Linked DNA regions of Homo sapiens. The protein of the gene in region 1 purifies or fractionates together with the protein of each later gene. This does not show direct contact. Each region holds a gene or a part of one and is shown in the gene's direction. Other genes may lie near its edges. The genes, in order: ARHGAP11B, CSRP2, ELMO2, LSM14A, MOB2, CBS and MTPN.

Region 1 (4,188 bases):
GATGGTCCCACTCAGCCATCCACCTATACTTTCTACAAAGTCAATTTATACTGATTCTTCAGATCAGTTAATCACTGGTACGTTTCCCCTCCCCGGTCAAGGATCTTTTATTATACGCTATCATAGAATCATATTCCTTTCCTTAGCGCACTTCTCTCAACTGATAAGTGCCGCCATTAATGTACTTACTTGATAAATATATGCCTGCCTTTCCTCTTCCAGGGCCGAAACTGTGCCTGGTTTTGCTCATCATTCTACAGTATATAGCACGAGTTCAATAAACAGTTGTTAAAGCAACATATTTAACTTACATTTTGTTCCCATCTCTTCACTCAGAGACTTTTCTTTGGATTGGGAAGGGTAAAATATCCGAAGATTTGAACTCCAAAAGAAACAAAATGATTCTATGCAAACGTTTCCTACTTAAAACTCATTCATTGGGCAAATATTCACTTAGTCCCTGGCACTATTTGGTAATAGGAATACAGGAGTGCATATGGCAGATAAAGTTCTGTTGCTGCCCTTACCAAGTTTCGTGGGGGTGAGATGTGGTGTTAGTAAATGCATACTATTTTGTCTGTATTTAAATCGAGTCCAAATCTCTCGCTCTACAGCCCGCCTTGGGATGTTTCTTATATCCCAAGAAACAGAATATTTTGATGGGATCGCTGATGTTTCAGACTGCAAAAGCAGCTCAGGGCGTTTGCAGTCGTGCAAGTCAACAAGATAACCGTCTGGACCGGAAGCTGGGCTCCTCCCGGTCTCCTAACTCCAAATCCAACACCAAGCTTCTGCAGCTGCCACCTCCCGTAGACTTCGCATTTCTTCCGCACTCTCCTCTCACGACGGGTCTTCTTTGTTGTACTTAATTTCCTACGCAATAAGATTTCAGCATCACCATCAGTCCCCCAAAGACTAATTCCCACAGAGCCGAAGTTCCCACCAAAGGCCGAGGGTTAAGGTTACTAAAATCAGCGTTTCTGAATCCTGTCTCAAGTTGTCTCAACTGGGCTTCCGTAGAACGGTTTCTTCGTAAGAGGGCCTTCAGCGACAGCCGAGCTCGGAAAAGAACGGGAATAAGTTGTCTCTTACATTTCCTCAAATACTGTGAATGGTCTGAGGCGCAGGTCAGGTGTATTTAAAAACCTTTAAACAGTATTCCCCCGCCCCAAAAACTGGCCTTGAAGGAACAAGTGAAACTCATCCTGCTTTTCATGTTTGCTGGGTTTGCCCGTTACACCCCTTCGCCCGCACCTATCTAGACAGGCAGCTCTCGGCCACCCTCCGGGGTCCTGATTTTGAAAAGAGGAGTGGACCAATCAGATGTGGAGCGCTGTTTGGCGCTGCCATTTGAGCCTGGGCTGAAACTGCGGGTGTGACCCCCCCGTGGTGGCTCCGGGTGTCTGCAGTGGAGCTGGGGGCGGAAGCATGAGGCTAACGGCTTGGCTTCAGTGAACGCACCGGGATGTGCAGGCCGGGAGGTAGAGGCAGGCTGATGGGGGAGGGAACGAGCAGCCTGTGAGACGGGGTGACGGCGGCTACCAGCCCGGGCGGGCACCGGGACTGGAAGAGTTGCCTGAGCAGCCGGCTGGTCCGGCGGCCAGGCTAGGGCGGGGGCGAGCGCCCAGTTGAGCCTGCTGGGGCTGGAGGAGCGAGAAGGGTTCTCTTCACATTTCAGAGCGAACCAGACGGACAGTAAGGTTTGGAGGAAGGGGGATCGTTGGAAGTAGCAGGAAGTGGAGAGAATCTGGCAATAGGCGAGAAACCGAAAGAATCAGAAAGAAGTCTATGTGAGTAGCTGAAAGCATTGGGTGACCAGAAAGAAGGTCGCTGTAAGTGAAGGAAGAGTGAGGTGTGGCTGGATCAAAGGGCTAAGAGAAGCGGGTCTGTGTAAGTGGATGTGAGTGAGGATCAAGGAAAAGCCGTGGAAGTGGCCGGGGGTCGGGGCCGCAGAAGTGCCAGACGGGGCCGGAAAGCAGCCGAGCGGAGTTCAAATTTGAGAGCGTTTGGAAATTGGAAGACTTGGTGGCGAACGAGGGTCAGGACCTGCATCCTGCCTCAGAGTTATCGACGTATCCGGAATGTGGGATCAGAGGCTGGTGAAGTTGGCCCTGTTGCAGCATCTGCGGGCCTTCTATGGTATTAAGGTGAAGGGTGTCCGTGGGCAGTGCGATCGCAGGAGACATGAAACAGCAGCCACGGAAATAGGGGTAAGTTCTGTGAAAAGGGATTTAGGTTTAAAAGAAAGGGCACACCCTTTATCATCACTTATTAGCAGATCGTGCTAAAATGTTCACTCTGTGTATCAAAAAGAATGGTTAGGTGTGTAATTCAGTTCAGATGATCGATTGCTGATATTTAAAAAGTGACATTCTTGTTTTTTTTTTCCCCAAGGATTTTTGATCATTGAGAGAAAGTTGCAGGATTTTCCAACTTCAGCACTATTGACATTTTGGATTAGATAATTTTTGTTAGGGGAAGACGAAATGCTGTTCTGTGAATTGTGGGATGTTTAGCGGGATGTCTGTCTTTTACCCACTAGATGCTGGTAGCATCTCTCAGTTGTGACGATTAAAAATGTCTCCGGATATTGCCAGCTTACTGTATTTGGAACAGGTAGTACGTTGGGAGGGACAAAAACTCTACCCCTCCACCCTTGTTTTAGAGTAAGGTTGTAGAGGGACAAGGGAGACCAGTGCATTTTCTACATGAATCTGTAGATGAAGTATGACAGAACATTAGAAATAGGCTTCAAATGATGACTGCATATTCACTAATTTGGGAAACAGATTTGCTGCTTGGCCATATCATACTTTTGGGACAGCAATTTTTTTTTTTGTATGAGTAAATTGAGAAGCCAGAGTGGAATAATTGAGAAGTTGTTGATGTTTTGGTGGTTGAAATAAAGGGATTTTGAATGAGATTTTAATAGCTCTGCCACATAATCAGGAATTGCATTGTGAAAAATAAGCTGAATGTAAAGCATTTTATTTTAAATTTATGTGCCTAATTTATATGGTACTTCCTAGTACTTGGAGACAAGCTAATAAAGTTAATATACGTTGCTTTTAATAGTTTATGGTTTCTAAAAAAAAGTGCTTGGAGAAGAAAACCACTAACAAAAGTAATATGTGTGTCTCTTAATCGCTGATAAACTTTGGAGAAGTTATTTTTGTTGGTAGCAAATTAATGGCAATACATGTACTTACATTTAAAAAGCTACAGTGATTTTTTTCTGATTGTAAAACTGGCTTTCCAAGATCTCAAATGTAGCTGATTTTGTAAGTATATGGAAGAGTTTGTATATGGACTTTTTTTCACCCCTTTTCTTTTCTTTTCCTTTTTTTTTTTTTGTTTTTGAGATGGAGTCTCCCTCTGTCGCCCAGGCTGGAGTGCAGTGGCGCGATCTTGGCTCACTGCAAGCTCCGCCTCCCGGGTTCACGCCATTCTCCTGCCTCAGCTTCCCGAGTAGCTGGAACTACAGGCGTCCGCCACCACACCTGGCTAATTTTTTGTATTTTTTAGTAGAGACGGGGTTTCACTGTGTTAGCCAGGATGGTCTCGATCTCCTGCCCTCGTGATCCGCCCGCCTCGGCCTCCCAAAGTGGTGGGATTGCAGGCGTGAGCCACTGCACCTGTCCTTTTCACCCCTTAACAAGAAAAACTGTTGCCTGTTTTCAGAGTCGGATAGACCTGAGTTTGAGTGCTGTTCCACCCCTACTACATCTGTAAACTTGGGCTGCTTGTTTGATTTCCCTAAGCTTCAGTTTTATATCTATAAAGTGGGAACGTATTTCTCCTTGGATTATTTAGGGATTTTTAAAAAGTGAAGCTCTTTATGTAGGCCTAGCACAGTGCGTGTCACATGCCACTTCATCTAATGATAGTTGTCATATCATTGGTCTGCCTCCTAATTGGTAATCACGCCATATAAATTCAGCTAGAAACACTTATAAGAATATTCTAATGAAGAAATGTAGAAGATCATTGTGTTATGAGATCTAATGGGATAGTTTGTTTGAAAACAATTTCTTTAGCCGACTGGTGTTTGTTAGCTAACTGTAGTTTTAAGTTTTAAAAACATTTTATGAGATTAAATTTTAGTGGTTACTTGTGAAGCCAGTTATTCTAAATAATAAGACTTAAGGAAAAAAACACGCTGAATTCTAGTTATATATAACAGAAGTA
Region 2 (4,446 bases), on another chromosome or scaffold:
ATCTACTTATCTCGGCCTCCCAAAGTGCATGGAATAACAGGCATGAGCCACCGTGCCCAACCTGGAATTTCCTCCTAACTCCTACTTTTAACCCAGTGATTCCACTATTTGAACTTCACATTTTCACATCCATTTTATATTGAGAAGTCCAAAATTGGTGTAATAGTCCAACAAAATGGCCTTTGGACAAGACCATAAACCATGCCAGCCACCGTGCAGCATTAGCATATGTTAACTCGTGTAATCCTCACAACAGTCCTACAACATAGGGCTTCCTCTCTTTCTTCAGAACAGATGAAGACAAGAAAAATTAAGTAAAAACTTTGCCCAAAGTCACACTGTTAGTTAATTGTAGAGCCTGGAACTTAACCTAGTCTAACTCCAAACCTTATGACCTGAATGAAACGTGGTGCTTGGCTTGGCTAAAATAATAATTACCATGTATTGAGTCCCTGTTGTCTGTTGAACATTTATCTTCATTCTGTATAATCCTTAGAGTAACTCTGAGGTATACTTTGTCCATTTATAGATGACGACACTAAGAGTCGGGTCACACAAATAAGTGAGGGAGCCAGGATTTGAATCAATGTCCATTTGGTTCCAAAATCTGTTCTCTTCCTACTGCAGTATGTACTACATTGAGGCTCACCTCTGTGTTCTTTGAGCTTCTTCCACCCTCAGAGTTTCTGGGCCATGATGCCCAGCTTACCTTTTTATCTTTGTTAAAATTTATTTTACTTGTTCTGCTCTCCTTTTCCATCTTGTTACATCTATTTTTGTGTTTTAAAGGTTTTGTTGAAAACCTTTCAAAATCCATATCCCCTCACTCAACCTGCATCTCCCTCAATCCAAACCAGATTTATCCATGACCCCAAAAGTAAGTCAGTGACTATGGCCATAGTTTTAAAGCACAAAGACCAGTGAACCCTCCTTTTTTTAAAAAAAAAAAAAAATATATATATATATATATAGACAGGGTCTTGCTATGTTGCCTAGGCTGGCCTCGAACTCCTGAGTTCAAGTTATCCTTCCACATTGGCCTCCCAAAGTGCTAGGAAGACATTGTTTTTCCAGTAGGAAAAATTAACAGTTGTGGAGTGCTATCATTTTATCTGCTCAGCTAATTTATAAGGTTCTAAGAGGGCTTAAAAAAAAAAAAGTCTTCTCAAAGCCCGAGAATGTTCTGCACATACTAGGTACACCTTACTGAATGGAAACAGTTCCTACTGATAGCAAGAAATATGGTTTACTCAGTGATCTGTAAATAGTGACAAAAATACCACCCTTACCAGAGAAAAATGAAAGATAAACAGATTGCATAGTAATAATCAAAATTTATAAAATATTTTTCCATGAAGAAAGTTGGCTATTCACACTTTCCTTTATTCAAGATATACTGGGAGACTAAGTAATCTATAAAACATGCTTAAATTTCTTAGTTACAGACCAAAGTTAACTTACCTATTTGTGGAATTTTTAAACTACTTAATAGTGGTTTTTCCGACTCCTGTGAAGTAAAAAGCTAGGTATGATTCCAGTGATATTATTCTGGAGTAAAAATATATGCTCTGGTAAGTTTTTATAAACCGTAACATAATTGCTTAGTGGAGAGGCCAACACTGAGGAGTAAATGAATTCTGTTTAGACTCAGAGGGACAGATCTTTACGTTTGGGTCCCTATCTGGTTTTTTGAAATAATAATGAGCCCATAGATAGGTTCAAGTAGTAACTCTGGCTGGCACCTGAGTCACTTCTTCTTTATTCCCTCCCCTGTGCTGGCCTGCAAAGGCTTCCAGCTTTGAGGCAGTGTAGCGGTTAAGTCCCAGAGTTCTATTGTTCCTGCCTTGTGTACTTAAAAGGGCCCTGTGGAAACTCTTGCCTACTTTTTTTTTCCTCTTTTCACAAGTGTTCAGCCTCACAGGCCTACAACAAATCCAAACACTTCTAAATTTGCTCAGAAATATGGAGGTGCTGAGAAGTGTTCCAGATGTGGGGATTCTGTATATGCTGCCGAGAAGATAATTGGAGCTGGAAAGGTAAAGTGCTATTTGGAATTAATAACAGCAAATGACTTCTCTCTGCTCCCTTTCTCCCCTAACCCTTCCACATTCCTTGCTTGGGTGATGTCTTACAAATCACTGTCTTATATGAAACTTTTCTTTAAATGCATTTCCATCAGAATCATTAACTTTTTTGAAGTGATTCCCTTATTTGACAAGTCATTTTTCTGTTTAAAAGAACTTGTTTTCATAGGGGGCACTCCTGAAGGTTAAACTTTAAAAGGCCAGACTGTAAGGGAATCTCCAGGTTATTCAGTATAGTGAAAAAAGCAGGAATCCGAGTCAGGACACCTGATGCGAATTCAGTGTGTGGATTTGGAAAAGTTACCAGCTAACCTCTTTGAGCTGCGCTGTTCTTGGCCAGAAAAAAGATGGTCTCTTTAAAGGAGCAGACTGGGCTTGTGGTTAGGACTGAGGCTGCTCTTAGGGAAACAGCCTTTCTGTGGGTGATCAAGAGTGCAGATACTGAGGACTGGTTTCAGCCTTCTCATTGGAGCTGAACCACAGAAGTCAGGAGCTTGCTTTGAGATGATCATCCTGAGCCACTTCTTGCCATACATCTAAATTGAACTGTAGGAAACAGGCCTCTCAAACATGCTGACACATTCATCTCTTCCAGCCCTGGCACAAAAACTGTTTCCGATGTGCAAAGTGTGGGAAGAGTCTTGAATCAACAACTCTGACTGAAAAAGAAGGTGAAATCTATTGTAAAGGTAAAATTCATTTCAGTTACTGCTGTCCATATGAATATTCCACACTGGTTCTTGTTTAATGAAATGTCACTGGCATTAAAAAAAAAAAAAGAAAAGTATGCCACTATTTTCTGAAAATAAAATATCCCAAGATGCTTATAGATGACAGAGAACCACAGTTAAGTTCCTGATCATTTAAAACTCCCCACCAGATAAAAACACCACAAATAGCCATCTTTTGCCTTCATGTCTTGAGCAAAGCGTAAGTATATGGAAGAAAACAGACAAATACATACCTTACCTGGCCTGACTCATGCTTGCAACTCAGCAGGACCACGCTGAACACTATAGGGCCAGAATGTGTGGACTTGTCTTTGCAGCTTTAAGATATTTAGTACATGACACATTTAACATCTTAAATAAGTTGAGCTCTTTTACACAGCAGTTTAATTTATGGGGGTTTGTTGAGTGGGTCTTAAGCAGTGCTAGCAAAGCTTAATGGACTTGCACTAACTATCCTTCCTCCCTTTCCTTTGTAGGATGCTATGCAAAGAACTTTGGGCCCAAGGGATTTGGCTATGGCCAAGGAGCAGGGGCTCTTGTTCATGCCCAGTAAGATGTAAACCCTGAACTAAACATCACACACTGAGAATCTCTTCATAATCTAGGCACAGATAATCTTTAACACTAAACTACTGTGAAATTCTACCAGCATTAAGTACTGTATATCGCCCTGTACTTGGATAGGCTGGCTAACTCGTAGGAAGAGAGCACTGTATGGTATCCTTTTGCTTTATTCACCAGCATTTTGGGGGAACATTTCTTTTACATTTTAAATAAAACTTCAGCTTGATTTGGGTGTTCATTGTCTTTTAATTAATCTTTTGGAGGAGATGCTCTGATTTCAGTTAGTGGAAAGTCATTTGGTTCCCTACCTTTGTTACCCCATTACCCAGCTGACTCACTAGGTTCATGTTTGCATTACAGCTGTTGAAAAGGATCTCTCTTTCAAGCAGGCAAGTGTGCCTTAAGAGTAAAGGTTGCAGGCCGGGCGCGGTAGCTTACGCCTGTAATCCCAGCACTTTGGGAGGCCGAGATGGGCAGATCACGAGGTCAGGAGATCGAGACCATCCTGGCTAACACGGTGAAACACCGTCTCTACTAAAACTACAAAAAAATTAGCCAGGCGTAGTGGCGGGCGTCTGTAGTCCCAGCTACTCGGGAGGCTGAGGCAGGAGAATGGCGTGAACCCGGGAGGTGGAGCTTGCAGTGAGCCGAGATCGTGCCATTGCACTCCAGCCTGGGCAACAGAGCGAGACTCCGTCTCAAAAAAAAAAAAAAAAAAAAAAAAAAAAGGTTGCTAGGCAACAGGCATCATTATTTCAGCTCCTCAAAGCTGGTGTTCAGCAGTGCAGCATCTCCTCCTTTCCCTCCCCACCGTACTCTTAAGTAAGTTCTTTTGATTATACCTAAAATTCAGTACAAACAAACACCTATGGGCAATTATAGAATCAGAGACTTAGTATGATTCTTTTTAAAGACTCTACACTGTGATCTAATAGATGGTGACCTACTAAGTCCTGGAAACTGGGGTGTTTCACACATTTTGATTCTGTATAAGTAGCAAAGAATGTTGCATTGTCTGGGCACATTCAGCTGGCTTAGGTAGAAGAGGAGCATTAGACTTTATAAGG
Region 3 (4,135 bases), on another chromosome or scaffold:
AGTAAGCAAACACGTGCTGGAAGGGTTCCCTATAAGGAGATCCTTTATCCTGGGAATATTATCTGGAGAACAGAATTATTTCTAGTCTCCTATCTCCTGATGTTTCTTTTCGATAGGGAGAAAAGCAGAGGGAGGTTTTCCTCTTTCTTTCAACTAGAGTTAGGGGTGCTAACCCTGATTTTTCAGTAAGACTTATTCTAATGTTTGATATGAAAACAACAGTTTTTTATTTTATTTTTATTTTTTAATAGAGACAGGATCTCACTTTGTCACCCAGGCTAGAGTTCAGTGACATGATCATAGTTCACTGCAGCCTCGAACTCCTGGGCTCAAGCAACTCTCCTGCCTCAGCCTCCTGAGTAGCTAGGGACTACAGGCACACGCCACCATGCCCAGCTAATTTTTATTTTTTGTAGAGAAATGTCTCGAACTCCTGGCCTGAAGTGATCCTCCTGCCTTGACCTCCCAAAGCATTGGGATTACAGGTGTGAGCCACTGCGCCCAGCCAAAACAAACTGTTAAACAATGGAAATACTGTGTAGTTAGAGGGTATTGGGACGCAGAGGGAACACCAGACAGCCTGCACAGTTCATGCCTGTCCCTGTCTGTTTGGAGCCAGCCTGGTTCACAGGAGTGGAAGAAATCAGAGCCATTGGGTTTAAGCAGACACAGGTGCTTACTGAGCCTTCACTGGACACCAAGTGCTGTGCTAGGTTATGAGACTGCAGAGTTATACCTGTTCTGGAGGAGGAGCTAGTGGAGATGTGTAAATATGTAACTGTAATAGAGTATGACAAAATCGTACTCATTAACGGAAGTATGAACAGGATGCTGTGAGAACACAGAGGCCCCTGTCCTATTTACTTTTGCCAGGGAAAGTAGAGAAAGCTAAGACTAGTACAAGGAGGAGGTAACATCCGAACTAGGCTCTGATGCTTGAATAGGAGCTCTTCTGACAGTCAGTAGGAGGAAGAGAATGTGCAAAGGTACAGAAGAATTGAAAGAACATGGCCTGCCTTATAGAAATAGCCCGTAGTCCAGGATGGCTAGATTGTAAAGGACCAAATAGCACACGAGGGAGTGTGGCCCACCTGTAGACAGTGGAGAGCTGTCTTCTGTTACAATGGTGAGTTCTTGCTGTGAAGGTTTCTTAGCCTCAGTGTGCTTTGGTTTCAGATACACAAACCAGAAATCTCCACAAAGCACCTGCTGCGGGTCAGGTGCAGAGCCACCTGCTTTCTCATGGCTTTCCAGCAACACCAGACAACCTGGTATCAAATTCTGGCTGTGCCACTTGCTAGCTATGTGACACTGAGCCTTCTACTTAACTCCTCTGTGCCTCCATTTTCTTATCTCTAAGGTGGGGATAATAACATACCACACAGCATTGCTGTGTGGATTAAATGAATTAATATATGTAAAGCCCTTAAAATAGTGCCTTAGCATTATGTAATTGCTAGCTAATGTCATCATCTAAGGAAGTATTATATAGAGCGATGAGAACTCGCTTTGGAGTCCTAAGACCTAGGCTTGAGACCCAGTTCTGATGTGTTGGGTTGATTTAGTTTTATTTCTTTTCCCTCCCTTCATTTTTTTTCTTTCCTTCCTTCTTTTAGGAGGGAGGTGTAGAAAGAGGTACATGGAGAACAAGTTTGTCAATCCGTCTGAACTTCAGTTGCCTTACCTGTAAGGTAGGAATGTTTTTCAGAGTTCTTATGAGCATCAACTATAATAATGATATAGAAGTGAGCAATCAACTATAAAGAGGCTACCTGGGCTGGGCACAGTGGCTCACGCCTGTAATCCCAGCACTTTGAGAGGCCGAGGCAGATGGATCACCTGAGGTCAGGAGTTCAAGACCAGCCTGGCCAACATGGTGAAACCCCGTCTCTACTAAAAATACAAAAATTAGCTGGGCGTGGTGGTGAGTATCTGTAATTCCAGCTACTCAGGAAGCTGAGGCAGGAGAATCGCTTGAACCCAGGAGACAGAGGTTGAAGTGAGCTGAAATCATGCCATTGCACTTCAGCCTAGGCGACAAGAGCAAGACTCCATCTTTTAAAAAAAATTTAAAAAAATAAAAATAAAGAGGCTACCTGTACGTTACTACTAGATATATGATTACTATGAAGTTACCATATAACCGATCTGTTTCAAACAAATCAGACTTATCTAGTGGGTAAGAGCAAACCCATGGGTTTTGCTCTCATTAATTCAGCCATTGTTAATTAAGTGCTTACCCAGTACCATCATCATATGCTAGTGATGCTGCTGTCTGCTCAGACCTCCGTTTTAGAGTTCCTGCAGAGCTTGGGGGCAGCTGTGGTCTTAGGCGTATTAGTTGCAATGAGTAGAAACATAGACTAGCTTAATTTATAGGAGTTTTATTGGCAGGATACAGTGGACTTTCAGGTACCCCGAGCATAGGAAGTAATAGCCACATAATCTGGAAAGTTAGCAGGTAATGGCTTTTCCATCTCTTTCTGATTTCTGGCCTCAGTTCATTTAGATATTTATGGATTCCTCCTGCAGAATCACTTCCTCTGAAAGGCTCTTGGTTTTTTATTCTCCATATCTTTGGCTCGTACGGATCTTTGGCTTGCCATGGTATTCGCTCTGAAGCTTACTATGATCTTACTTCTCCAGGGTCATTATCACCCAGTTCCCTTAGTCTGTGTCTTTTATTTGTTTGTATGTATGTATGTGTGTATTTATTTATGATGGAGTCTCATTCCGTCGCCCAGGCTGGAGCGTAATGGTGCAATCTGTGCTCACTGAAACCTCCGCCTCCTGGGTTCAAGCTGTCCTCCCTGCCTCAGTCTCCCGAGTAGTTGGGATTACAGGCGCCCACCATCATGCCTGGCTACTTTTTGTATTTTTACTAGAGACGGGGTTTTGCCATGTTGGCCAGGGTGGTCTCAAACTCCTGACCTCAGGCGATCCACCCACCTTGGCCTCCCAAAGTGCTGCGATTATAGACATGAGCCACCACGCCCAGCCAGTCTCTGTCTTTTAAATTCAAGAGAAAGAACTGGAATAGTTCAGCTAAAGTTGGGTATTCACTTTAGTCCCATCAGCTATGGCAGGGTTGTGGAGAGTGTCATTCAGTTCAGAGAGGCTGCCTGGGCTTTGTGGGAAGGACAGAGTCACTGAGAATGGGGGCTTATTAATATCTTTCAAATAGTTTGGTGGTTGCAAATCTCCATGCTTTAAAATGTATACGAATTTTTGAACAGCCGAGAATCATTCAGGGCTAACTTTAATAAAGAGAGAGTCAATCTAGGATATGTCATATGGGGTCAAGAGAAAATAATAGCTATAACCTAATGAGCTTTAGCTTAATCTCCAAAGACGGCGTTCAGAAAGGAGTTAAAAATCATGGGGTTTGTTTCTTAGCAGCACCATCGAAATTAAGGAAGGGTGTAACTTCATTTGGTAAGGACTTTAAAATGGGCATCCTCACTTGGATTTTTTAAATTCCACTTAAGAATCATGGACTTTTAGACTTAGAAGGCACCTGAGACATGCTTTAGTTCTACACTCACATCTTTCAATAGAAGAAAACTGAGATTTGGTTAAAGGGCCATGTATACATTGTGAAAGACCTAGGATTGGGTCCTGAGGCCTTTGGTTCTAAATCCAGTCACTTGTTTCAGCAGGGACAATTATCCCAGCCCAGTGTTCTTTCTGTTGTACCTTCTGTGCCTGCTTATTTTAAAAATAAGAAGAAGCCAAACTAAACAAATGATCTAAAAAGTCATATCGTATAGTTCCATTTATATGAAGTACAAAACCAGGCAAAACTCATGGATGATGATAAGTCAGAAATTCCCCTTTAAAGGACTGGAAGGATTGACGGGAAGAGGAAGTATGAAGTAATTTTCTAGGGTGATGAAAATGTTCAGTGTCTCGTTTTGAGTGCTGGTTACAGGGAGATGCATGTGTATATTTATATGATGTATATTTATATATACAAACATATGTACCCTTAAGCCCTCTGCATTTTATTGTATGTAAATTATATCTCAGTTTTTAAAATTGACCTCACAACCGTGCAGTCCTGTCTACTAATTGCAGCAGCTTTGCCGATAAGGATAAGGATGCATCTCTAAGCATCCAGAGATTGATGGCGCCA
Region 4 (3,277 bases), on another chromosome or scaffold:
GAGCTTACTCTTCCCAAGGGCATCCATCCCACCCCAGGGATGTTCTAACTGTTACAATCTCAGCTGGGCGTGGTGGCTCACACCTATAATCCCAGCACTTTGGGAGGCTGAGGTGGGCGGATCACCTGAGGTCAGGAGTTCGAGACCAGCCTGGCTAACATGGTGAAACCCCGTCTCTACCAAAAACATAAAAAAAATTAGCCGGGCGTGGTGGCACACACCTGTAATCCCAGCTACTCGGGAGGCTGAGGCAGGAGAATCATTGAACCTGGGAGGCAGAGGTTGCAGTGAGCCGAGATCACGCCACTGTACTCCAGCCTGGGCGACAGAGCAAGACTCCGTCTCAAAAAAAGGAAAAAACAAACCTTCCATGCAGTAACTGTGTGTGCTCCATGTGGTTACTAATACAAACATTTTTTTGACACCATGTCACACTGTTTATCATTTTGAGCCTTTTGTAAAACTCGTATCACATATATTGCAGAATTGAAAATGCATTGTCATAGTTACCTCCATGCATCTTTGTCTACGCTCCTGTATCCTTGACAGATAGTCCAGCCTCTGCTTAGGTGTTGCCAGGAGTGATGGACTCAGCGAACCCTCAGGCATGGCCCAGTGTTTAGGAGGCTCAGTTGTGACATTGTAGTCCCTGCTCTTCTTAATTGTGTGAGGATCCCACTTGATATATTTGGCCTCATTCCTCATTACCCTTTAACCTATCTGATTCAAGCAAGCTGCCTCATGGTTATCTCACATACACATTGTGCTTGATTCCAACTCCATCCCCATTCATTTACCAAATATACAGAATTCTTCAGATATGCCAGGCACTATGTTGAGCATTGGTGCTGACCGATGTAGGCCCAGCCCTTTTGATGTTTACATTTTGGTGGGAGACAGACATAGCTAAAAGTCAGGTCCCCCCTTTCACTTATCCTTTACAGCCTTGCCCAAGTTTTGCTCTGTCTTCTCTTCCTTCCTACACTGATTTCCTCCTCTTCTGACCTGTGGCTATCTGCTTTCTTTGGCACACATTTTAAATACACTGACATTCCCTATTTTTTGTATTTAGTTTTGTTCTGCATCACCAGCTAGATGAGAACCTCTTGGCTTTAGTGAATATGTATTCTACTTTTCTTTCCATGACAACACTCAGCTCAACATGGAGCCATAGTGGGCTTGAAGTAATTGCTTGTCATGTTGATTAGGAATTTGCCACTCCAGCCTTCAGTGAGACCAAAGGTCTGTCAATGTAGCTAGCCTTTGATTGTTCATTCCAGAGTTGAATAATCCTTTCATCTGCCACTAGAGCCCCGAACCCAGCAGCCCTACACCTCCTAAATCATAAAATCATTTCACCTGGCACCTTTAAAGGTAGAAAATGGTGAGTGATCACTGTCACATAAAGGAGATTTACCACTGAAGATTAAACTTGTATCTGAAACATCTAACACTTCCTCCCAGAGATGGACATGGATGACATTTCTGCAGCCTTCATGAAATGAGTTGGCTTTATTTTTTGTGCTATATTAGCATGAGTCATTGTGGTTTGGGGGTAAGCATAAATGAGCTTGGTTGTTTAATGAAAACATGGGTAAAGATAAAATCATAAAGTTTTAGAATCCTTAAAAGAATCAGCCAAACTAGAATCTCTACGCTACCACACTCACATTAGATGATAAGGAAACTAAGGACCCCAAGAAGTTAATTGTCATGATTGAGGTACAAGCTAACAAATCCAAAACTCACTCTCTTGACTTGTGGCCTGATTTTCCTTAAGGGTAATATTGTAAATATAGGCCAGTGCAATGGTGTACACATGTAATACCAGCATTTTGGGAGGCCAGGGCAGGATTGCTTAAGCCCAGGAATTCAAGGACAGCATGGGCAACATAAGGAGTCCCTATCTCTATAAAAAAGTTTAAAAATTAGCTGGAGTGGTGGCACATGCCTGTAGTCCCAGCTACTCAGGAGGCTAAGGCAGGAGGATCAGTTGAACCTGGGAGGTCAAGGCTGCAGTGAGCCATGATCGCACCACTGCACTCCAGCCTGGGTGACAGAGCGAGGCCTGTCTCAAAAAAAAAAAAGAAAAGAAAGAAATATAACCTTATGGTAAGTTTGGTTGTATGGTGTTTTCCCCCTCCCACCGCCCATTCTTTTTTGAGGTGAGAATGGAAATCAGGACTAGCAATAATAATGTAACCAGCTCCTGTTTTATATGCTGCTGTCAGGGAGGTTAAGCCACCATGGTGGGTGATAAAAATCACATCTGTGTTTCCTCAGATGGGGTTCAAAGACAACAAGGTGTCTGAATGACTCAGCATAATGCTCTCTCTCCTCTCCCCCTTTCATTTTCTCCTTTCTCCCTCTCCTGTCCCCATCTCTTTCTCTTTTTTTTTTTTTTTTTTTTTTTACCTTTCAGAAAACCACAGCTTTTGGACCCTAAAAGGTCTGGATTGATCGTACTGCTTTCTGAAAGGTAAAAAAAACAAATACTTTGGGAGGTGTGAAGGTTGGCTTTGTGGGGGACAGCAGGTTCATCTTGTAGCTCATTGCTGTCAACTTATGCCATACCATATGTATTTCAGTTTAATAACGGGGTGCAAATGTTTTGGTGTTGTATACACAGATGAAGTTAAGTCTCACCTAGGAAATGTCTGTTTCTAACAGTTGGGGTGAGAATCAGCAGTAAAAACCAGGTATATGGTAGCAGCTGGTCTAGAGGAAAATAAAAGCCCTTGGCTCCAGCCCTTTGTACAGGCCTTTAGTTTAGGGTCAGTCTCTCTGGAAATCTTGAGATTTTTATTGCTTCCTCACTGGTTACTTTTTAAAAATTCCCCAGTCAGCTTTCTACTTTTCAGAGCTTATTTCAGATTTAAGAGTTATCCTTGTAAAATTGATTTTTAAACCATTGCTTCCTCCTGGCATGAAATTTTGGAGAGAAATGTTATACTGACTGGGTATTTTATTGCTTAGTAAAGACATCAAAGACTTGGGGATTTTATGAAACTTGTTTCAAAGTATGTTGACAGTTGTATTTGATGAGTTTGACTATTGAGTTGAGGGTTTAAGTCCTATCACTGCTTTTAAAAAATTATTAGGGAGAACAACCAAAGATGAGGAAGTATGCCTGTATTTTGGGGTGGGGTTCACCACTGCATTAACCTCTACTGACTGGAAGATGCAGTCAACAATGAGGTACTACTGAGTATGGAAGTTATAGAAGGAGTTTCGTGGAAATGAGTGAGACAGGTTTTTCTATGAAAGTAAAAGTGGG
Region 5 (4,135 bases), on another chromosome or scaffold:
GAAGTACAGGAAACAGTGGTGTTCCATCTTTCAGAACAGATGGGACAATCCACAGTGTCCCTGAGTTACTGCTTTCTCTGGGTTTGCATTGTGGAAAAGGGTTTCCGTCTCTAACCTCCACTGTTTTGAGACCTGTCGCACACCTGTGGCCAGGTGCATCAGATGTCAGCTTGCAGTGTCAGGGTACCTGGAGCCAGTGTCTGACTCCTGCAGAGTGCTGAGCCATCCTGGCTGGGTCCTCGCCCTGGAAACATGGGCCTCAGCCTGGCCCTTAGGGGCTGGGCCTCCCCTACACCATCTGGGAACCCCAGGACAGTGGGGATACGTGCGTCCTCTACATCATTCTCGAGGAGCAGATGCTGAAAGGACTGTTGTCTCTGCATTCTCAGAGGGTCTGACAGCCTGGTGGCGATGCCCACGGTGAGGCCTGCAGCCTGGGAAGGTGGGCGTGAAGGTCATGCAGAGCTGTCCCAGGGGGAGGACAGCACCTGAGAGGCAGGTGTGGGCACTGCATCCCCGTCCTCATGGCCTGTCCATTTTGGGGCTGCACTTCCCCTTCGGGTGGGCTGAGTCAGCCCCGCACAGGGCACACATGAGAGCTCCTGGTTTGCATTCTGGAGGTGGGTGCTGGGAGGGGGTTGTCCTAGGGCCCTGGTGGTGCTGGGAGGTGGCCTGATGGCTGTTTCTGTTGCAGAGGGCAGGGTGCCAGCATGCAGGGCTTGCAGTGTCATCCTCTAGCTTCTTGGTAACTCTGGTGACTCCCCCCGGGATCTGCAGTGCACAGGCTGAGGGGCTTCTTGGACACAGCAGAGGGGTGCCCAGAGACGCTGGAGGCCCTGTGCCCAGAGATGCTGGAGGCCCTGTGCCCGGAGACGCTGGAGGCCCTGTGCCCGGAGACACTGGAGGCCCTGTGCCCAGCTGGGAGGATGGCTTCTCTGGCTGCGCAGGAAGTGGGCGAGCCCCCCGTGGCCCTGTCTCAGCCCTTGGGGCGTCTCCCCAGGTGCCTTGGTGGGCTCTGGAACCCAGGGCACGATGCTTGGAGCTGGCCAAGAGAAGAGTGGCCTCCAGAGTGGAGCCTGGGTCCATCCTTTTCAGCACTGCCCCACCCAGGGCCATTCCAAGAGGAACCGTGACTGGATGAGGAGGGTGGGAGCGGTTCATGTGGAGCCTGGTACTGGCAGACTGCCTGTTGGTCTAGCTGGGGCAGTGGAGGCGATGGTGGTTGTGGCCATGGTGTGGAGGGGGCGTTTGCTCAGTGGCCAGTACTGCTCTGTGCTGTGTGGCCCATTCCCACCTGTGGTGAGCTGGGAGCTGGCTCTCAGGGAGGAAATCCCGACCCATAGTGTTGGCTGTGTCTCAGGTGTGAGCACTCCCACCACAGCACTCTCCACTGCCTGTGGGTGGGGCTGCGGCATCGGCCCCAGCATGCCCTGGTTCAGGCCTGCGGGGGCGGCCGCTGTGGGCATGGCCTTGGAGGACTGAGACCCAGCACCGTGGCAGGGGGAGAGGGGTGGTGGCTGCCAGGTGGGTGCCCTGGGTTTTGGTGTTGTGCTGGGGGAGGAGGGGTGTTAGGGGCTGGGGGTCACCTTATATTAACATGAACTAGAGCACACCCTTGTCATGGCTGGACCCAACAGTAAGAGGCAAACCCAGGGTGTCCATGTCCCTAGGATGCTCCAGCCTGCTCTGGGGCCACGAGTCTCACATGAGGACTGGCCGCCCTTGTGTACAGGGGCAAGAGGGGGCCAGGTCCCTGTCCTGGCCAGGCTGTTAGCCGCAGGTACCCACAGAGACCACCGCCCTCCTCTGCTTTCCCCGGAGAGGGGCTTGGCTTCTAGCAGTCAGAGCAGGGCTCTCCCAAAGGGTGGGGCCTGGCCGGCGAGCCACAGCACAGCTTCCTGGGAAGAGAAGGAGCCTCTGTGTGCTTTCAAAATACAACAGAAAAACAGCAGCACGCACTTGTGTAAACGAATACAACTGAAGCCATGTAGAAGCGGAGAAAACGAAGATGACCCCTTCATTTAATCACACACCTGTACAGCCATGTGGCTGGCAGGCTCCCCAGCGTGATCCTGGCGTAGTTCTAAGTCAGCGCAGGCAGACCCCTCCATAGAGTGCAGTGTGGTCCCCGCAGACAGTGTGTGGGGACAGTGTGCATGTCCAGGGAGGGAGACACCTGGGTCTGCCACACCTCCGCTGCTGGCGCCACCTCTGCCCGCAGATGACCTGAGCGGGTGGGACCCAGTGGCTGGGTGGGTGTGCAGCGGGCGCATGCCCTGACCGTGTCTCTGTCTCCACAGACAGTACTACTGGTATGACGAGCGGGGGAAGAAGGTCAAGTGCACGGCCCCACAGTACGTTGACTTCGTCATGAGCTCCGTGCAGAAGCTGGTGACGGATGAGGACGTGTTCCCCACAAAATACGGTTCGTCTCCCCCAGCACTGGGCGGTCATCCTCACAGTGGGGCAGGGAGCATTCAGGACGTGTCTGCAAGTGACCAAGCTCCTGTGCCGGGAGGGGCAGAGGCACGGAGGGCGGCAGCTGCACCACCCCAGTCCCTGCTTAGCATGGAGCCACCTGGGCTGTGGGGTGAGGCCGGAGCCCTTGGGCAGGGGTCAGCCCAGCCAGGGCCAAGGGCCATCTCCCTGGCCCTCTGGGCCATGCGGCTGCACTGGGCCCCTCTTGGTTTCTGCCGCTCATGCTGCTCTCACCGTCCAGCTTGTGGGCACTTGGGCTGGGTATCAGCCGCCAAGCCTGTGTCCAGATTTTGGTGGGATGTGGTGGGGCTCCACGCCACTCCCGTGCTGCCAGAGGGACGGCAGGGGACAACAGGAGAGGCCTGTGCCACCATCGCCACCTCCGTCCTGGCCCGGGAGATGGCCCCAAGTGTCCATCAGGGAGACACCACGGGGGCCCGAGTGCCCGATCACAGGCCCCTTCCTGAGGAGGTGGCCAGGATGGCCCAACGAGCTCCCAGCCCTCAGGGCAGGTGCAGCCTCCGGAGCCTGAGCACGCAGGGAGGTCTCAGCAGCCCAGACCCGGGGTTGGCAAGTCCCTGTGGTGCCTGCTGATGGGCAGAAGCTGTTGCTGCTGGGGCTTTGTAGGCCCTGAGGGTGGCAGGGTCAAGGTGTGGGTGGCAGGTACCAGACCCACCAGGCTGGGTGCCAGGGGCCTGGCCTCTGTTGGGGCCAAGGGATGTCTGCAGCTTGTGACACGGTGGCCTTCCCCAGGCAGAGAATTCCCCAGCTCCTTTGAGTCCCTGGTGAGGAAGATCTGCAGACACCTGTTCCACGTGCTGGCACACATCTACTGGGCCCACTTCAAGGAGACGCTGGCCCTGGAGCTGCACGGACACTTGAACACGCTCTACGTCCACTTCATCCTCTTTGCTCGGGAGTTCAACCTGCTGGACCCCAAAGAGACCGCCATCATGGACGACCTCACCGAGGTGCTATGCAGCGGGGCCGGCGGGGTCCACAGTGGGGGCAGTGGGGATGGGGCCGGCAGCGGGGGCCCGGGAGCACAGAACCACGTGAAGGAGAGATGAGCCCCCCGGGCCGGACAGGGGCACACGTGTGCAAAGAGACGGTGGTGTGTGTTCTCTCCTGCATCTGCGTGTGCACACATGTGCTGGGCACGCGTGTGGTGAGGTCTGAGAGGGCCCCGGGCTGCACTGGTGTGGGCTGCACAGGCACAGACGCAGACGGCCCCGGCCGTGTCCTGTGGCCCCCTGTCGGATGGATGCGTGCCGTTTGTAGAGAAGAGCCTTTGGGCCCATTCACTCGTTCAGCAGACACGCATGGGACTGATGCTTTGAGTTTTCTTCTGTGGGGTTTTCCTTTCTCTGGTCTCCGTGCAGCCCCTGCCCTCCCTCGGGTGCTGCTGGCCTCAAAGGAGGAACTCGTGGGGGGAGGGTGTGATTTGCAGACCTGGGTCTCTGCTCTGCTCTGGGGGTGGGGCTTGCTTTCACAGAGACCCTCCTTCCCTCTCACCCCTCCTCTCCCGGCCTCGCCAGGAGTCTTGGCTGTTGGCAGCTCAGAGGTGGGGGAGGCCTGTGGTGTGAGGTGCCCTGCACCTGCTCCTGCTCCTGTCACCCCTTCCTGCTGCCTCCTCCATGCCCAAGGAACACCCATG
Region 6 (3,707 bases), on another chromosome or scaffold:
CTGAGGTGCTGCCGGCGGGGGTGCGAGAGCGTTTGTCCTTATCCTGATCCCCCCGACCTGCCCTCTTCCCTCAGGTGGTGGCACCTCCGTGTTCAGGAGCTGGGCCTGTCAGCCCCGCTGACCGTGCTCCCGACCATCACCTGTGGGCACACCATCGAGATCCTCCGGGAGAAGGGCTTCGACCAGGCGCCCGTGGTGGATGAGGCGGGGTCAGTCTCAGCCCCTGCTCAGAGCTCAGTCCTGGGTTCTGTCTGCCCAGCTCCACCCCGTCAGTGTCACTGGACAGGGCAGCCATGCAGACCCTGCAGCTGGGCTGATAGGCCCGCCTGGGCCGCCTCATACAGACGTTCAGGGCATTGGAGGCCCCTTGCCGGTCCCTGAGCAGCCTGGGGCAGGGCTGCCGTGCTCACTCCAGGCCCTCAGACCTCAGCCCACCCACCCTTTGTGTGCAGGCTGTCCTGGGCCCACCTGGAGGTCAGGGGAGAGATGCCCCGAGGACATGTCTGACAGCAGAAAGCCTTGGCACACATGCCCAGTGACCACTGAGAGCCCCACGTCGCGGAAACCTGACGGCTGGTCACCCTTGACCCTGGCTGAACGGGTCCAAGGACTCTTGGTTTCTTTCTCCCCACCAGGGCCCAGACTGGTTCCTGCCGCGTGTAGGCTCGTGGCAGAGGACTTCCATGTGTGGCCAGAGAGCGCTCCTCCCTGGGGCAGCTGAGCGTGTGCCCCACCGTCCTGGGAGGGGTGAGGTATGAGCGCTGACCCCTGCCTGCCCCCGTCCCACAGGGTAATCCTGGGAATGGTGACGCTTGGGAACATGCTCTCGTCCCTGCTTGCCGGGAAGGTGCAGCCGTCAGACCAAGTTGGCAAAGTCATCTACAAGCAGTTCAAACAGGTACCCAGTCACCTACAGGCAGCTCAAACAGATGCGCAGTCACCTACAGGCAGCTCAAACAGGTGCCCGGTCACCTACACGCAGCTCAAACAGGTGCGCGGTCACCTACAGGCAGCTCAAACAGGTGAGCGGTCACCTACAGGCAGCTCAAACAGGTACCCGGTCACCTACAGGCAGCTCAAACAGGTGCGCGGTCAGCTACAGGCAGCTCAAGCGGGTGCGCGGTCACCTACAGGCAGCTCAAACGGGTGCCCAGTCACCTACAGGCAGCTCAAACGGGTGCCCGGTCACCTACAGGCAGCTCAAACGGGTGCCCGGTCACCTACAGGCAGCTCAAACGGGTGCGCGGTCACCTACAGGCAGCTCAAACGGGTGCCCAGTCACCTACAGGCAGCTCAAACAGGTGCGCGGTCACCTACAGGCAGCTCAAACAGGTGCCCGGTCAGCTACAGGCAGCTCAAACAGGTGCGCGGTCACCTACACGCAGTTCAAACAGGTGCGCAGTCACCTACACGCGGCTCAAACAGGTACTCAGGCACTTCGGGACCCCAGAGGGTGCCAGAGTACTCCAGCCTCGAAGGCGGGACACCGCGCTTCCCGTGTGGGGGTGCTGGGTCCTCGACCCTCAACACCACTTAGGCCGAAGCTGGCTGCACCCCTCAAACCATGAAGCTGAGAAGCACCCACTTTACAAGTGCAGCAGCCGGAGAGCAGGCTCTCATCAGTGCAGGCTCATCCACACCAGCCGTGTTTTGGGGACTTAAGGAGGTCATTCGCGCTCAGAGGCTGTCCCGGGCACCATGCGGCGTCTGCCGGGGTCTTTCTCCTGCCCAGCCTCATTTGCCTGTGCATGCACTTGGTTATCCAACAAGAGCTAGAACATTCTGGGAGAAGCCCACGGTGGCTCCTTGCCGGGCTGGTCAGACTCCGTGGTTGTCCTGAGACACCCACCCTCTGCTGCCCTGAGGGTGGCCCAGGAAAGTTTGTGTGACCTTCCACACGGATCCCCTGGGACATGCAGGTGTGGCTCTTGACACTGGAAAGGCTGAGGGTTCTGCCCAAACCTAGGAGTGAATTCGACTTCTTTCCCATCTCACACACACACCCGAGACGTCACCCGAATCCACGTATTTCCCACGTTCGGCTGCCACTGCCTCCCGGGTGGGCTTTGCAGGACCCACCATCGCATCCCCTCTCACTCCACAGAAAACTCGTGGGGCCATGTTCCCCCTGCCACTGACCACGCTTCCCTTGCAGATCCGCCTCACGGACACGCTGGGCAGGCTCTCGCACATCCTGGAGATGGACCACTTCGCCCTGGTGGTGCACGAGCAGATCCAGTGTGAGTGGGGCCCTGCTCTGTGCGTGGGGTTCTCACTGGGGTCAGGCCACCAAGCCTGGCCTCTGCCATGGGCAGCAGCTGGGCCCCCCATCCCCTGCGGGGTGTTAGGGGAGTGGGTGGTGCCGACCTTCAGTGACACCCAGTCTTTATGCCTGGGCCTCCCACATGCCCTGGGCTGGTGGGCTGTACCTGTGATTCCTGCAGGGACCCCTCATCAGGCCACACTGGGTAGGGCCCTTTGTCCAGCATGCAGAGGCTCAGGAGTCCAGGCCCCTTGCCTCCGGGGAGGCCAGCAGTCTTGGGGATTCTCAGGGACAAGCCCAGAAACATCTAGAAGGGTTTCAAGTCCTGACCCTGGCATTCGGAGGGCTGCTCTGAATGGAAGCCTCATGTGGGTCTCACAGGAGCCACTGATGGGCTGTCCTCAGAGCCCCGCTCCCAGCAAGCTCATGAGGTTTTGCAACTCCTGAGCGCATCCCCGGGCGTCCCCACCACATCCCCACAGGCCAGGAGAGTCGCTCGCAGGTTTTGGGTCATAGATGGCAGCCCTGGGCCTGGGGCCCACAGGAAGAGTTGGGAGGGGCCCTGGAGCCTGGAGCCTGCCCACCCACCAGGCCTGTGTGCAGGGGGTGAGCGCTCGGTGGCTGAGGCTGGTCCGTGAGGGCCCCAAGTCTAACCCCATCTCCCGTCCTTGGCTCTGCAGCGCAGGACCAGGCCTGGGCAGGCGTGGTGGGGGGGCCTGCAGGTAGGTATCACCCACCCCTCAGAATGGCTCTCAGGCTCAGATTCACAGCCTCCCCATGGCAAATGGAGGCCTTCCAGGGTCCTGGACCCACCCCCAAGCTTGGGTAGGAGGGATCCCCCTCTTAATCTCACATTTACTTGTGTTTGAACATCTCAGAAAAAAAAAAAGATGCAAATTCCAATGTCAGGGTCCCCAAATCAAGTCTTCCTGGAGCATGTCCACGCTTGTCACCACCGTCTGTGGCTGCTTTCAAGCACGTCAGGGCTGCGTGCTCATAACAGAGACGGCACGGCCCCCAAGACCTAAAATACCACCAGCTGGCCCTTGTCGGAAAGTCCCCTGGCTGGCCCTAGTCCATTGACTCTGGGCCGAGCTGCCAGGGCCACAGAAGCCTGCGGCACTCAGGGCTCCCAGGGCTCCCTTCTCCAACAGTTGCTGTGCCTCCGTTTCCCCAAAATGCAAGGAGCTGATCTCATCTGTGTTCCCTATCTTTTCCTGGGGCTCTAAGTGGGCCACCCCAAGGGACCTCTGCCTACAAAGAGAGGAGTGACAGCCGTGGCGGAGTTGGGACGGGCTCCGAGGGCTCTTCCTCACCCGCACCTTGCTCACCCCTCTGTGCCTCATGACAGCTGGTGTAGGGTCCTGTGGAGACGCAGGACCAAGAGGATGTGTGGGGAGCGGGGAGAGAGAGGGAACGAGATCTGTGTTAAGGAACTGGATCA
Region 7 (4,135 bases), on another chromosome or scaffold:
TTTTGTTTTTGTTTTTCGGAGACAGGGTCTTTGCTTTGTCGCCCAGGCTAGAGTGCAGTGTCGTGATCATAGCTCACTGTAACTTCAGCCTCCTGAGCAGCTGGGACCATAGATGTACACCACGACACCCAGCAAATTTTATTTTTTGTAGAGACTGGATCTCACTTTGTTGTACAGGCTGGTCTCAAACTCCTAGCCTCAAGCGATCTTCTGGCCTCGGCCTCCCAAAGCACTGGGATTACAGGTGTGAAAGCACTGGTTCACAGGTGTGAACCCGTTTTTCCTTTATAAATTAGTATTTTTAAAAGTCAGTAATTACACTTTTCTACCTGCCTCTGACTTCTCTATTAAAGTTCGAAGTGTGAGTATCCCTAAATCATTGGTTTTAGGTGAGTTCTTGAACTTAGAAAAGTCAGTTCACAGTCCCCAAACCACTGAAAATTGTATTTTGAAATGGAAAAGACAGTATTGAGAGAAAAATTTAGATTATTTAGAGAAAAATTTAGATTATTACATTAAATGTTTCATGTATAACTTTAAGACAATATCTGAAGCAATTTTAAAGTCTTTCAACACTACATTTGGCTTCTTGACTGACTTAAGGACCACATTTAGTTAATTCATTCATTTTTACTAGGCATCTTTCAGGTCTTAAACTCTTTAGTAGTCCTGGGATGATAGTACAGAAGTTCGACACAGTTTTCAGGAAACGTAAGCATCTATATTTAGCAGACCTGCGTGAAAAAAAATTCATACTTTTATAGTAGTATGCAAATTATAAATAACATCTCATTTTCATAAAATTCAGTTGTCCGGCTGGAAAACAAGTGAAAGCCAGAAAATAAGGTATTCATGAGCAGCTATAAGAGATATTCATAGCCCCATTTTTGATCTGGATGTTTCTTTTGGGTGACATTATTTTTGACTTTGTCTTACATTTCTGCCTTTATGTTCTCCTGTTGGAGTTAATTCTAGCCTCACCTGAATTTCAGACTGCATAAGCTCTGTTCAGACAAATTCCAAATTGAGCTGTTTTCCTCTCAAAAACTGTTTTTATTCCTATTGTGTCTCCATTTTCACTAATGGTATCATGACCCAACCATTTGTCCAAACTGGAAACTGGGAAATTTTCCTAGATTTCTGAGGGTTACCAAGACTACCTTCTTAGTCTCCCTCATCCATTCCTCACTCTCCTTTCTTCTTACTACTTTAGATCAGTTGCTGCTTCTTTCCAGCCTGGACTATATTTTCTTTCTTGACTATAAGAAAATAGTCAAGAAAGAATATATAGTCCAGGCTGGAAAGAAGCAGCAAAAATTGACCCCTTCCTGGTCAGTTTACACAGTTTAGGTGGAGGGATCTCTCAATAACATGAATATAAGCATGTAATCTTTTTCAGCCAGTCTCCTGCACTGCCCTTAAAATATTAATACTTTTGTGATTTCTCACTGCTTATTTTAAAAGGGCCAGCTCCTCATTGGTATGGTGTACTAGGCCACTATTATCTGGGCTTGCTTTTCTACACTTGCCTCTCTCTAAGCACTCTGCTCCAGACCCTGCCATCCTGTTTCTTCCTTGTAGATCTTTACATGTGTTCTTTCATCCTCCCTGACCAAGTCTGCTCACCTCAATCCCTAACCCCCAACCTGTTAAACTCCTATTTACCCTCCTAGGGTAAGTATCACCTCTAACAGAAAAACACCATACCGATGAGGAGTTGGCCCTTTTAAAATAAGCAATGAGAAATCACAAAAGTATTAATATTTTAAGGGCAGTGAGGGAGACTGGCTGAAAAAGATTGACTTCACATAGAGTGCTGCTTCTTTTACTGTTTTGCTCATCAGATTGCTGTGATTTTGTTTACATGTGTCTTCATTAGGCTCTGAACTCCTGGAGGGTAGATAATATATTCTTTTTCATCTTTCTGTCTCCAACATAGCGCCAAGGAATTTTACACATTAAAATCATGTTTCTGGTAAGAAATTCATTTTATTCTTAACTTAGCAATAATTTCAGCATACTTCATTAATTACAGAATAATAATTACCATTGACTGGATGACTTACATTGTCAGGTACTGGAAAGCACTCTGCAAGATGTTTTACCTAAGTTTTTATTTGCTTCTTACCACAGTGTTTCAGTATAAGTAATAATCTTATTTTAAGGATGAAGAACCTGAGGCTTAGAGAACTGAAGTAACTTGACAAGGTCACAAACTAAGTAGCATAACTGGATTTTAAACCCAGAACTGTCTGAATCTACATGGGGTGTGTGTGTGTGTGTGTGTGTGTGTGTGCGCGCGCGTGCGCGTGTGCGCGTGTGTATTTATAACCATATCAGTTTGCTTTAAAAGTGGTTTTTTTTTTTGCTAACAACACTTTAGAATTAAGAAAACGAGAAAGAGGCTTGTAAGAAGCCGGTACAACTAATTAGCTCTGACTGTGAATGAAGACAAAAATGGCAACCGTATTTTAAAAATTGTAAATGTAACAATTCAGAAATAATTAGTATAGAGACAAACATCTCTGTAAACTTAAACTCTCATCAGAGACTGTCATTACTCAAGACGTGTCCATAAGAGTGACTGATAGCCTGCAGAATGTTTTGTATTTATGGTCACATATAATCTAACCTTATAATTTATGTTCCTAATTGTGATCCTACACAGTCCAGAAAAAGTTAAATTTTGTTTGTTTGCCTTAGGAAGAAACAAAAATAACTAAATTATTGAGATTTCTATTCATAATTATTTAAATAAAACAAGTAACATTTTGAAAAAAGTATGTTTATTAAATTTTATGTATTTGAGGATTGTGATGCAGTATACAGGTATTATTTCATTTACTTATCAACAGTAAGCCATGAGCATTATTAATAATGTTAACCCCATTTTAGAGATTTTAGAGGCAGAGATTAAATAACTTGCTCAAGATCATAAAGTTCTTAAGTGGTGAAGCTGAGATGTGAACTCACTTCCTTGGGTTCTGAAGGAGTTTCAAAAGCCCCATGCTGTTAACTACTTCAGCATACCCTTGACCTTCATTTCTCAATAAGGCCAGAAACTAGGGGGGTACTATATTATTGAGTAAATAGTAAAAATAATCATAGCAGGATGGTAATTATCCATTGAGACTACTAAAAGGTGAGCTTTCTGGTGGATTTTGAGGATCCAACATGCTTACAGGTGAGTGCTTGTGAGTTGCATTGATAAATAGCCCCTTTTAATCTTCAGCAGGTCTGATACATGTACTCTCTTGTTTACATGTACTTCTATTTCACTTGCTGTGAAATAGAAGCCTGGTCTCTAACTTCCCTTTCTCTGTGGTTTCCTTTCCCTCCAGCCTCCATTCTAATTACATCTGCCGTTGACACTCTAATAGGTTTGAAAAGCAACAATTGTGCACCATGTGAAAGGATAGAATCTCTTGAACCTGAGAAAGATATCAACTCTAATCTTTAGAAATTCCAAGACTCATTGAGATCACTTTTCACTTTCCTAATAAAATAGCCAATTTAAAAGAGGTCCTGATTCAATCTACTTTGCATTTATTGGTTTTAGGCAGCTTCCCTTTTTTTTCTTCTTTAAATTATTAGTTTCTTTCTTATAAAAATGTATCACTGTGTGTTGCCCTTTCTACAGAAGGGCTGGTGACCTATTCAGAAAGCATATGTCAGCTTGTATAAGATACAGGTGCCCTCAGTAGACAGAGAAACATTAGTATAGATTCTTTTCTAATTATTAATGCTTTTAGTCATTTTAAAAAATATATAAAATAGAGGAAGATCTTTTTTTACATTGGAACATAAATGTTCATTCAGATGTACATAGGCTATATAAAGTGTTTTGGTTTGAGATTCTAAACATTTTCCTTTTATTAGTGCAGATAATTAAAAATTTAATGAATTAAAACTGATAGAAATTATAACAATATTATGAGCTTGTTATTTAAAAAAGCAAAGCTGTATTGAATAAAGTAAAATATCCCATTGACTATTTTTCCTACCTATGTGGTTCCTCTCTTTAAAATATAAAATTGATTAGGTGTTTTTAAAACAGAAAAGAATAAAGAAGACAAAAATTGGCCAAAATTTTACTATTTAGATAACTCCTAACTTTTAAAAAGTAAAATTAAAT

The links.
Region 2: the proteins of ARHGAP11B (region 1) and CSRP2 purify together in Homo sapiens (affinity purification with mass spectrometry; one large-scale study listed by BioGRID and IntAct). This does not show direct contact.
Region 3: the proteins of ARHGAP11B (region 1) and ELMO2 purify together in Homo sapiens (affinity purification with mass spectrometry, with the first as the bait; one large-scale study listed by BioGRID). This does not show direct contact.
Region 4: the proteins of ARHGAP11B (region 1) and LSM14A purify together in Homo sapiens (affinity purification with mass spectrometry; one large-scale study listed by BioGRID and IntAct). This does not show direct contact.
Region 5: the proteins of ARHGAP11B (region 1) and MOB2 purify together in Homo sapiens (affinity purification with mass spectrometry; one large-scale study listed by BioGRID and IntAct). This does not show direct contact.
Region 6: the proteins of ARHGAP11B (region 1) and CBS purify together in Homo sapiens (affinity purification with mass spectrometry, with the first as the bait; one large-scale study listed by BioGRID). This does not show direct contact.
Region 7: the proteins of ARHGAP11B (region 1) and MTPN purify together in Homo sapiens (affinity purification with mass spectrometry; one large-scale study listed by BioGRID and IntAct). This does not show direct contact.

Annotation. Positions count from the first base shown.
Region 1 is NC_000015.10:30,624,740-30,628,927, forward strand, and holds the start of ARHGAP11B (inactive Rho GTPase-activating protein 11B), read left to right. Parts: upstream 1-1,388; 5' UTR 1,389-2,081; coding exon 2,082-2,210; intron 2,211-4,188.
Region 2 is NC_000012.12:76,857,874-76,862,319, reverse strand, and holds the end of CSRP2 (cysteine and glycine-rich protein 2), read left to right. Parts: intron 1-1,906; coding exon 1,907-2,036; intron 2,037-2,679; coding exon 2,680-2,773; intron 2,774-3,291; coding exon 3,292-3,368; 3' UTR 3,369-3,611; downstream 3,612-4,446.
Region 3 is NC_000020.11:46,396,253-46,400,387, reverse strand, and holds part of ELMO2 (engulfment and cell motility protein 2), read left to right. Parts: intron 1-1,616; 5' UTR 1,617-1,691; intron 1,692-2,368; exon of another isoform or gene 2,369-4,135. UniProt on the Homo sapiens protein: Involved in cytoskeletal rearrangements required for phagocytosis of apoptotic cells and cell motility. Acts in association with DOCK1 and CRK. Was initially proposed to be required in complex with DOCK1 to activate Rac Rho small GTPases.
Region 4 is NC_000019.10:34,223,986-34,227,262, forward strand, and holds part of LSM14A (protein LSM14 homolog A), read left to right. Parts: exon of another isoform or gene 1-2,422; coding exon of another isoform or gene 2,423-2,446; exon of another isoform or gene 2,447-2,479; intron 2,480-3,277. UniProt on the Homo sapiens protein: Essential for formation of P-bodies, cytoplasmic structures that provide storage sites for translationally inactive mRNAs and protect them from degradation. Acts as a repressor of mRNA translation. May play a role in mitotic spindle assembly.
Region 5 is NC_000011.10:1,469,585-1,473,719, reverse strand, and holds part of MOB2 (MOB kinase activator 2), read left to right. Parts: intron 1-2,300; coding exon 2,301-2,425; intron 2,426-3,231; coding exon 3,232-3,548; 3' UTR 3,549-4,135. UniProt on the Homo sapiens protein: Stimulates the autophosphorylation and kinase activity of STK38 and STK38L.
Region 6 is NC_000021.9:43,055,336-43,059,042, reverse strand, and holds part of CBS (cystathionine beta-synthase), read left to right. Parts: intron 1-74; coding exon 75-209; intron 210-635; exon of another isoform or gene 636-752; intron 753-789; coding exon 790-898; intron 899-2,155; coding exon 2,156-2,240; intron 2,241-2,943; coding exon of another isoform or gene 2,944-2,985; intron 2,986-3,707. UniProt on the Homo sapiens protein: Hydro-lyase catalyzing the first step of the transsulfuration pathway, where the hydroxyl group of L-serine is displaced by L-homocysteine in a beta-replacement reaction to form L-cystathionine, the precursor of L-cysteine.
Region 7 is NC_000007.14:135,970,393-135,974,527, reverse strand, and holds part of MTPN (myotrophin), read left to right. Parts: intron 1-4,135. UniProt on the Homo sapiens protein: Promotes dimerization of NF-kappa-B subunits and regulates NF-kappa-B transcription factor activity. Plays a role in the regulation of the growth of actin filaments.